2 separate regions of the Homo sapiens genome follow, and region 2 is linked to region 1. The links come from fine-mapping of genetic effects on gene expression. A gene starts in region 1. The other region holds a variant in brackets. All regions are shown on one strand. Distances are from middle to middle.

Region 1 (5,322 bases):
GAGCCAGGAGGAGGGGCACCCGGGGAGCAGGGGAGGCAAGGGCTGCTGGATGCCCCATCTCAGTTGAATTCTCCTTGAGGGACCCAGCCCAGGAGCAGAGTAAGAGGGTTTGAGGGTGGAAGGTGGCAGGGCTGGCCAAGCAGTATAGTCCCTGCTGCTGATAACCAATCCCTGAAATCCCGAGGTGGAGGGACTTGAGGGCAAATCACAGACATGGGGGACCTAATGCTGGCCATGTGGCTCAACCAGAAGTGCCCGTCCCTCATAGCTTTGGGGAGATCAGAAGTCAGGGATAGGGTCGGGTGTGGTGGCTCATGCCTGTAATCCCATCACTTTGGGATAAGGAGGCAGGGGGATCACTTGAGCTTAGGAGTTCGAGACCAGCCTGAGCAACATAGCAAAACCCTGTTCTTTACAAAAAAATACAAAAATTAGCCGGGCGTGGTGGTGCACACCTGTAGTCCTGGCTGCTGGGGAGGCTGAGGTGGGAAGATCACTTGAGCCCGGGAGGTCGAGGCTGCAGTGAGCTGACATCATGCTACTGCATTCCAGCCTAGGCAATAGAGTGGGACCCTGTCTCAAAAAAAAAAAAAAAAAAAAGTCAGGGGTGCTGGCCCCATGATAGGTGCAATGGGTGCCTCCAATTCCCTCTGGCTCTGCCTCCCAGCCTCTGTCCAAGCAACAGGCAGATTTTCCATGCCTGGGGACTTGCCCCTGGCTCACTGATGATGATACCATCTTAAGTCTCCTGGAATCCTTAAACCCTTCCTTGGCATTTGTGAGCAAGTATTGAGCCCCTCCCATGTTTTAGGCCCAGTGCTGGGTGCTTTCACCTGCAATTTCTTACAGAGGATGGTATTTCCTAAACTCCATTCATTTGCTACCTCCATGATTTTTGCCATATCACCCAACCCATGAAATACATAAATAAATAGTATTTACTCAATATTTTGACTCACTTTTAAAAAACATAAACTTATCTGAAAAGGGAACCTATGTCACGCCTCTAAATAAACAGTATCAACCAAAAATACAAAAGAAACAAAAATAAATACAAAGACATTCTTGGTTTCTGGCACCAGGCCCCAGTTCTGGCTCCAACCTTACTGAGAAGTCACATGATCTCTCTGGGCCTCAGTTTTCTCCTCTGGAAAATGGAGCTTTTGGAAGTTAATGCATGCACAGTGCCTGGCCCTGAGACTGGCATGGAGTGAGTGGAAGAGAGGTTGCCTGACCTGGCTAAAATTGGTTCTCTGGGCAGACATTTTCCCAAGGGCCACTGAGAAGACCCTCCTGTTAGGAGTCAGTGAGCTCTGTCGCTGGAGGCATTCAAACAGAGCCTGCGGACTTCTCACTGCGAAGTTGCCCAGAGAATTCAGTGCTCAGAGGAAAGGGAGTGGTTATTCCATCAGAGCTGGTTCCCCAGGAGCGGGAGCAGGGCCTGTAGCACCCAGCCTCTGTCCCTGGCTCCCGTCTATCCGGGATTTTAGCGTTTCCTCTGTAGTTTTCAAGCACTGTCTCATATGACTCTCGCACCAGCGAGAGGCCAGGGGAGATGGTGTCTGCCTGTTAAAGAGGGGCAGGCTGGTCCACATAGGTCAAGTGACTTGGCCAAGGTCACCAGAGCAGAGTTTTGAACTTGAGCTGTCTGACTCAACTGCCTGGGAAGTGCCTGCCCCTCCTCTGGCATCCAGGGAGCATGTCCTGGGGCTCTGGCTGGGACATAGCCGGACACCTGCGGGCCCTTTACGTCTCTAAAGAGAGAAAGAGGGAAGGGCCCCTGTCTAGGGGGTGGTTTCCCTCCAGATGCCACCCCTCCGAGGTCCCCTTCTGCTTCTTCTTGCGGTAGCCAGGGAGGCAGCCCACGGGCAGGGAAGCGGGGGTGGGGGTGCAGAGTCAGAGGTGCACGTGGACAGAGACAGAGAGACAGGGACACGTGGGCAGAGACGGATAAAGACAGAGACCCAGAGAAAGCCAGATATGTTGACAGACACAGAGACAGACGCCAGAGAGGAAGGCAGACAAAGAGACGGGTGGAGACAAAGACTCCCACCAAGAGACGCAGAAGGAAGATGCCGACGGTAAAGACAAAACAGGAGACGCGCGCAAGGAGCAGGTCAGAGCCCAGGCTCGCTGAGAGAGGAAGGGCTGGGCTGGGGCAGCCCGGAGGCAGAGAGACCGAGAGTGCGGGGCGGGCGAGGGACGCCAGGGCCGCGTCACCCCAGCCCGTTCCTAGCTCCGCTCCCGGCAGGGGGCGCCCTGGCCTCGTGGCACGACCGGCCCGCGGGGCGCGGGGCTCGGGCCGGGGGCGGGGCCGGGGCCGGGCTGGGGAGGGGTTGGGGCCGGGGGCGGGGGAGGGGGCGGGCTGCCCGGGCCTCACTCGGGCCCCGCGGCCGCCTTTATAAGGCGGCGGGGGTGGTGGCCCGGGCCGCGTTGCGCTCCCGCCACTCCGCGCCCGCTATCCTGGCTCCGTGCTCCCACGCGCTTGTGCCTGGACGGACCCTCGCCAGTGCTCTGCGCAGGTAAGGATTCGACGCTGCCCCGCGCCCTGGTTCCCCAGGGCCCCAGCGGACGTGGTCCATCCCCTTCTGCATCCTCCGCTGGCCCCGTGGTTGAACTTTAATGGCAGGGCCGGGGTCTCCAGCGCCACGCCGCCCACAGCAGCCCATTCGGGACGCCCTGCAATTGGTCCTGCCCCTGTCCTCCCGCGCATCCCAAGCTCCCGGCGCGCGCTCTGGGCGGGACAGGAGATTGGACGTGGCGCCCGCGGAGCCGGCGAACTCAGGGGACCGCGCTCGGGACCGCCCTGCAGTCCCAGGGTCTCCTACCTCCCGAGCCGCTGCCTGGGACCCTGCGCTCTGTCTGGGCACCTGCCCTTGGTGCCCCGTGACTGAGCCCCTCCTGGTGCCTCCTTAGCCGTAGCTCTAGAGACCTGGGCTGCCAACCCCAAGGCCTCGTGGCCTGGCGCCCTCCCAGGCGTCCCACCTGACCCGGTGGGGTCTAAAGCAGTTTGGTTTGGGAGGAGGAGAGGGCAGGAGGCGCTTGGAATGGGGGGCGTGGCGGGAGGAGACAGAGGACACCCGCGTGGGTGTCAAAGTGTGGGCACCCACTGTGGGCACCGCAGCTGTGGGGCAAAGCTCTGGAGCCCGCGAAGCCGAAGGAGCCTGCCGCCCCCTTTAGGCTTTGCGAGGTGGGCCTCCCAGGGCTGCTTCCCTGCCCAGTCTTGGTAAGAAAGGGTTAAACGCAGGTCTCAGCAGAAAGGCAGGAGGCCGAGGAAAGCCTCCCCCACTCCCCATTGTGCCTTATGACTCTTTTTCAACACATAATGGGGTCGAAGGCGGGGCCTTTACAAAGGCCTCTGGGTGGAGGGTGAAATTCCTTGAGATCAAAAGAGGGGGCGATTCTTGGGCCAGGAAGGGCTTTGGGCCCTGGGAAAAAGTCAGACCGCTCAGGTGGGCCCAGCTGCCCAGGGAGGCAGGGGTTGGGTCCCAGCCTCAGTGTAGATACTGCAACTGTTTTTTGAAGGCCTACCGTGCGTAGAGGGACCTGCTCTGACATCTCATGTACATCATTTCATTTTACAAATGGGGAAACTGAGGCTTAGACAATTTAAGTAAGTGGTGGGACCAGGGTTTGAATCCAGACTCCAAACTCTGCAGCCCTAGCGTCCTGCTCCCACTGTGTTGCCTAAGAGATAGGGGGCTGAGCCTTGGTTTTGTCTTCCGGCTCCTCCTGGGCTCAGCCCGCTCTTCCTCCACTCTCCAGTCTTGCTCTTTCCAACTGTTTAGTCCTCCCCACCTGTGGGTGTCCCCACGCTGTCCTGCCCCAGCCATCCCACTCCCTGGCCCCATGCATCTTGTTCCTGTGTCACCTTTTTCTTTCTTTAACTGAATACCTGTGAATTCCCTCAGAAGAGGCCCCTGGACACAGCTTCTCAACATCCCAACTGGTGAAGACTAGGCTGAGTGATGATCCCGGTCCATGTGCCCATTTGTAAAAAGGGGTGTATTCCCCTTTCGGGACTATTGTGAGGAATAAAACTGAACTGAGGCCAGAACAAGATGCTATCTTCATTCAGCAAATACTTAAGCATCCGCCGTGTGCCAAGCTCTGTTCTAGGTGCCGGGAATGCCACAGTAAATCAGCCAAAAGCCCTCTTCTGGATTGGATGTTTGCATAACAAAATTCTTTCAGGCTTTGAAACTGTCAGAATTCACAGTGTAGACTTGAAATCAAGCTATTCATAAGGAAGGAGATTAAGACGCAATCACCTGTAAAATGGATTGGCCAACCTTTGGCCCTCACTTTAGCAAAGGCAGCCTTGCTGTGGGACCTGGGATCAGTTCTGTTCCCTCTCTGTGCCTCGGCCTCCTCCCATAAGCTGTGGAGATCAATAGTGCCTACCAGTGGTGAGGTCTAGATATGATGAATGCTTGCGAAGGGTTTAAGCTGGTACCTGTGCTTAAGAAAATCCTGGCTATCCTCAGCTCTCTTCTCAGCAGAAAATGCAATGCGGAGACTGGAAGTTGGGTTATGTGCCTACCCTGCCTCTGAACCTGTTACCCACTTCTGCCCAGGCCCTTCCCATCCTGTTGGGCTACACATGTGGGGTGGCATGGTGCCCTCTTTGCTCACACTCAGATGCCACCTTCTGTCGCCATCCTAAACACAGCCTGGGCTGGGAGCGCAGAGCTCCATGATGAGATCAGCCCTGGAGCCATCATCTCTGCAGCGCTTCCTGCCCTCTGCCTGTTCTTGTGCCTCACCGTGTCCTAGCTCAGGACCAAACTCAGCCCTGTTCTGTCCCATGACTTACATACCCAACATTCCCTGCAAGCTGGATATGATCTTGGAAAGGGGAAGTGAGTTGCCCAGAGGCACACAGATGCTACCTGAGGAGCTGGGGCTGGAGCCTGCGTATCTAGAATTCCAAATCTAGCAATCTCCATGCTGTACCCATCTCTGGGCATATGAGGCCTTTTAATCCAGGGAGTAGGATCCAGTAGCAGAGCCCGAGTTCTCACCTTGAAATCAGTCTGACTTGGCTTTTTAATACAAAACCCAGAGCTCTGAGAGAACATTGCTGGGAGAGTGAGCAAGCTGGGCTGAGAACCAGCACTCAGAAATCTCCATGTGGCCACAGGAATGCTGACTTGGCTTCCCAGCACCATGTCGTCGTCCTTGGCAGGCTGGAGCTGGGCTTTGTGGTATGTTAGATTTGTTTTTTTTCTTCTGGAGATGTCCTCACTTTCAGAGGGCAGTTAGGGGCAGTAGACTGAAGGTTCATTCCCAGCACTGCCATGCGACCCTGGACAAGTCACC
Region 2 (5,360 bases), 58 kb after region 1:
GTTGCTAGCTGTGTGACCTTGGGTCAGTTACTTAACCTCTCTGAGGCTTCCCTTTCACAACTCCTTTGTGAACTGTACCTGCCTCATAAGCTTATGCCAAGAACTGATTAAGATAATCCCTGTGGAGCTCAGCACAGGACCCGAGGCCTAGCGAGTGCCCAGAAGGTGGTGGCACTTACGCAGGAGCCACATGTCCTTGCCCTGAAACACACTTCAACAAACTGAGCTGACTCATGGAGACAGAAGTCATCCATGTGACGCTTACTCTCTGTTCTTAAGTGAGAATGCCCGGCTCGTTCCTTTTCAGGCTTTTATTGCCTACTGTGGGGGACTGCTGAGGCGATCTGGGGACTTCTGCCCCTTGAGCCTGGAATGGGGATTCGGTGAGGGGCAGAGAAAGCCCCCCTGCCCAGCTACACCTCACCTCTTTCTCTCCACCACCAGACAAACTCACCTGCCTTCAGCCCTCCATGCACTGCCCCCCACAAATTTCTGGGGGCTACTTGGCCCCTCCACAGTAGAGACCCACGTCTGCCCTTTTCCCAGCATGGTGGATTAAGTACCCGCTTTCAGGACACACAGTGCTGTTGGCCCCTTTCACTGAACAGACATCTGAGGCCAAGCCACTCATCCTGGCTTGCCTTCACCCGACATGTGGCCTGGGGCGAGTTCCTTCCCCTCCCTATGCCTCAGTTTCCCCACCTGTGCAGCAGAAACAGAGAGCCACACTTGCTTGCTCCCAGGGCCGTGGGAGGCCGTGATGAGGTCATGGATGTGAGAACATTTGTTGTACAGGCACAGGGTATAATTACATGGGGACTGCTCCTCAGAGGGGTTTGTCAGGGACAGCCTGAGCAGGGGACAGGAACTTGAAGGAAATTCGAGGGGAGGGAAGATGTTTCAGGTGAGGGGGTGGGAGATGAGGAGGGGGGGCCGCAGGGGCCACGTCAAGGGGCACAAGCCAGGGAGTGAGTGAGGACGGAGGACCTGTGTGAGGATCCCTTTCTTTCCTCCTCTTCCTTTCTCTCCCAGCCCCACCTGCCTCTCCGTCACCACCCCCCCAAAAGCCTCCCAGTCCCCAGACTGTACATGAAACAAAAATCCTGGTGTCCACCCTGAAAATAAATACTGTTGCTTAAAAAAAAAAAAGAAAGAAGAGAAAGAAAGAAAGAAAGACACAAACCTAAACCCCAAAGCCAAACAGCAAGTCTGTTATTTGGGAGTTTAATGAGCCCGTGTGAAGTCGCTGCCGGGCTGGAAACGATGAGGCTCCCTGCAGGAAGATTGGGGGCTTCGTTTTCCACTCTGAAGATGCCAAGAGGTCAGGTTCTGTGGGAACAGTTGTGGGGGGCGGGGCAAGGGACCCGTGACCTGGGGTCCCCTTCTCCTTCTTCTCCCAGCCCACCCTGCCCCCTGAGCTCCTGGCTGCAGCTGAGAGCAAGGACTCTGCCTCTCTGAACCACTTGTTTCCCCACTCCTTCTGGCAATAGAAATGCCTTCCAGTGGCAGCCACCCCCTGGGTGCTGGGGACTTCCCTGGGTGACTGCCTTTCCTCCTGTGATGGGTCTGTGGATGGATGTTAGTTGCATTTTATTTATTATTATTATTTTGAGACGGAGTCTCATTCTGTCTCTAAGGCTGGAGTGTAGTGGTGCGATCTTGGCTCACTGCAGCCTTCACCTCCCGGGTTCAAGCGATTGTCCTGCCTCAGCCTCCTGAGTAGCTGGGATTATAGGCGCACATCACCACGCCCGGCTAATTTTTTTTTTTTAAATTTTTAGTAGAGACGGGGTTTCGCCATGTTGGCCAGGCTGGTCTCAAACTCTGGACCTCAGGTGATCCGCCCGTTTTGGCCTCCCAAAGTGCTGGCATTATAGGCGTGAGCCATCGCGCCCGGCCTATTTTATTTTATTTTTGAGACAGGGTCTCACTCTGTTGCCCAGGCTGGAGTGCAGTGGCGTGATCATGGCTCACTTCAGTCTCAGCCTCCTGGGCTCAAGTGCTCCTCCTGGCTCAGTCCCTTGAATAGCTAGGAGCACAAGCCTGTACCACCATGCCCGGCTAAGTTTCGAAACAAATTTTATTTGTATAGACAGGGTCTTGCCATGTTGTCCAGGCTGGTCTCAAACTCCTGGCATCAAGTGATCCTCCCGCCTCAGCCTCCCAAAGTGCTGGGATTACAGGCATGAGCCACCGCGCCTGGCCAGTCGCATTTTATGGATAGGAAAACTGGGCTCACAGAGTTTAGGTGGCAGGCCCTTGGTCAGTAGTCGATAGAGTCAGGGTTCAAACCCAAGTCTGACTTCAAAGCTCACGGCCATGACCATGGCCTGGACCCAGGCTGGTCCTGGGGCACCTTTCCCACCTCTCCAGCCATCCTGTGTTCCTGGCCCCCTGTGCATTCCACAAAACCTAGGATCTAAGGTGGGAGACAGAGTGGAGGATAGAGCAAGGGACCTATGAGATGCAGGCCTGGAATGGTGGATCTGGGGCCAGTGTCAGCCAGGCTCTGCACTCCCAAGGTGTCAGCCAGGGGCAGTGGCCCGGGCTGGCACCCGCGGTGACAAGAGAACACTAGTGTGGTGGTCACCGCAGGCGGCTGCTGTTATGCTCTTGGCCCTACTTTAAAAATAGTCAGAACTTCAAACATGGACTCCCAAGGAAAACAAACAGTCCCGCGTCCGTCTGCCCGCACACACCAGCTGGTGGGTAAAATTAGCCTGGTGGTGACTACAGAGCCGTGAGGCCCGGCCCCGCTGTTTGCCCAGGCTGCGGTGGGCTGGCTCCCAGCTGTGGGCTGCCCCAAAGACCTCCCTGGCTGGAGCCTCTCCCTGCACGCATTCAGCCTTCCACCGTGGGAGAGGAGGCTCTGGGAGTCCCTGCCCTTAGCTGCACGAATACAGCAGGGCCCTAGTGCCACAGCCGGAAAAGCCCTGGGTTTGAATCCTGATGCTGCCACTTCCTGGCTCTGTGGCCTTCGGGGGAAAAAACCAATTTCTGTGCCCATTTTTTTAGTTGGAAAACAGGTGGCCAGGGTTTATTGCAGCCTTGGTATGAAGTTGAGTCAGAATGTATCTTAAATGCTTAGTGCCTGACACACAGGGAACGCTCTGTAAATGGTC[T/C]GATTCTTATTCGAGTGGGAGTTCTGTGGATTCCGGGAAGCCAAGTAAGGTAAGTTATCAGCTCCTCCAATATCCCTAGAAGCGCCAAACCACCGTCCCAATAGACTCGTGATTTCATCTCCCCACGCTGGACAAGTAAGGCCCAGAGATGACTGAGGCCTGGCTCACCAGGCTGGGAAAGTGTCCACACCATCTCCAGGGACTCCAGGAGTCCAGGTTCCAAGCCGAGGTCACTGGGGCTTCTGGGCATCTTGGAACCCTGCAGAAGTGATGGCTCCTGTCTCTTTTAGGTGATCATGGGGGGTGGCCGGAAATACATGTACCCCAAGAATAAAACTGATGTGGAGTATGAGAGTGACGAGAAAGCCAGGGGCACGAGGCTGGACGGCCTGGACCTCGTTGACACCTGGAAGAGCTTCAAACCGAGATACAAGGTAGCCTGTGCTGGGGCCATGTGGCTGCAGAGGTGGCCTGTGATGGGGAGAGGCTGTGTGACCCCTGCTCTGAAGTTCTGTTGTCCTCTGTAGAAAGGGCATCGGAAATCTTTCCTCCATGGGCTCAAATGGCCTAAGAGATATACAAGCAGTAGATAGTCAGTGACTAATCATTTCCTTCCCTTGGAGGGGATACCAGAGAGAGGCGGATGGTGAGGAGGAGGCTGGGCCAGGGAATAACCTGCGTGGACATTGAGTCACCCTGAGCACCTATTGTATGTAGGCACCTGGCGGGGCATGCGTGAGGCACAGAGGCTGAGTCAGATGGCCAAGGAAACATGGAATGCTGTGTGCCTGCATGGGGGACGCCTGGCTCTGCAGGCGCCCTGGGGGGACAGATGACAGGGAGGAGCCAAGAAGCTCTGGGCAAGTAGGAGGATGGAGGGAGGAGGCAGCGCTGGATGGATCAGGGGAGGACATGGTTGGCCCCAGTGTGCAAGCCATGGAGGGAGCGGAGAAGCCCTCCACAGTGAGTCCCCCTTGGCTGGGGGATGGAATAGATTGGGGAAGGGAGGCTGGAGGACGGAATAGATTGGGGAAGGGAGGCTGGAGGGACCTCTGGAAGGACCCCAAGCTCCAGCTCCTTGGAGTGGCCTCTGGCCCTTTAAATCTGAGCTGCTGGCCTGCGGGCCTGGGGCAGCTGGGGTCTGGAAATGACTGTGGTCAGGGCTGAAGACAGTGGGGAGTAGCCTGGCAGCCACTTTGATGTCACTCTGGGGTTGGGTTTCTGCAAGTTCCAGGACTGGCCCCTGGGGAGGCCTCGTGGGATGAGGCTGGGCCAAGAACGAGGTGGGGGTAGGGACTAGGGAAGGGCCCCCGTGGGGATGGTGGGGGTGTGGAACTGAGTGGCTTTGAACCCTTTCCATCCCTTCTGAGTCAGCTCAGGCTGGGCCAGAGCCCCCTCCAAGCTCAAGCCAGAGAGACACCAGCCTCAGTTTCTCTACGTGGCACATGGGGCCAGAGCTTCATCCTCCTTGCCCAGGCAGGGTGCTTACCCAGGAACTCGGTCTAGACCTCTAAGACGGGGAGAGAGCGTCTACACCATGGCCCCGAGCCTGGCCACATTGGGTATCAGGTCCCGTGTAGGCCCCACATCCCTAGAAAATCATGCCTTAAGAGTGGGTTTTAGAGTCAGTTTCACCTTTACCATTCAGTGGCTACGTGGTCTGTGTGCCTCGGTGCCCTCATCTGTAAAGAGGGAATAACAGGAACAACCCTGGAGGGAGAGAGCACAGGAGAGCCACCTCCAGGAAGCAGGGGCTGGGAGGGGGGGTGCGGAGCCCCACTTTCTGAGCCTCTCTGCCCTCCTCCCCACAACAGCCCCTGAGGCTTGCAAAGCCACTGATCCCACTGTCATTGCTAAGAGAAGGCAGGGGGTCTTCTAAGGGCACACAGCAGATCCTTGGTAGTGCTGGGACCCCTGGTCCAGGCCCACATGGTGCCCTCTCCAGGCCTGGCCTAGCTGGCTTCTTTCTGTGGACTTTATTCCCTGGGGAAACAGCCACGCCTTTATCTCCCCTCCCAGATGGGGTCCCCAAAGCAGAGCTGGGGCTTTGCTTCCTCCCTGGCCCTCCACGGCCTCCAGAAAACAGCCCACACCTGTCAGCACTCAAGGCCCCTGGAGACCTGTGCCTGGCTCTTCTTTGCCCCATGATCCCTCCTCCCTGGAATAGCCTTCCTGACCCTAGGCTGTTCAATTCCCACTTGTCCTCCAGGGACCCATTAGAACATCACCTCCACCAGG

Direction of the effects. Alleles are on the strand shown, and positions count from the first base shown. SD is a standard deviation of normalised expression in the study named.
For the expression in fibroblasts of the gene that starts at base 2,428 in region 1, allele C in region 2 goes with a lower level than allele T (small effect, 0.39 SD a copy in GTEx).

What was found. PIP is the estimated chance that this variant, and not a neighbour inherited with it, causes the effect. A credible set is the group of variants that fine-mapping cannot tell apart.
Region 2: its variant is the best candidate, but not a certain one, in a credible set for the expression of ALPL in fibroblasts (GTEx, PIP 0.72).

Annotation. Positions count from the first base shown.
Region 1 is chr1:21,506,996-21,512,317 of GRCh38, forward strand. It overlaps ALPL (alkaline phosphatase, biomineralization associated), which reads left to right and starts at 2,428. Exons shown (of 12, transcript NM_000478.6): 1 at 2,428-2,522. RefSeq lists a silencer at 2,236-2,335 and enhancers at 2,371-2,941, 2,942-3,511.
Region 2 is chr1:21,564,692-21,570,051 of GRCh38, forward strand. It overlaps ALPL (alkaline phosphatase, biomineralization associated), which reads left to right. Exons shown (of 12, transcript NM_000478.6): 7 at 3,413-3,556. Among named protein-coding and RNA genes, the nearest start is that of LINC02596, 19 kb to the right of the region's middle. RefSeq lists an enhancer at 3,826-4,410. The variant T/C (reference allele first, on the strand shown) is at 3,123.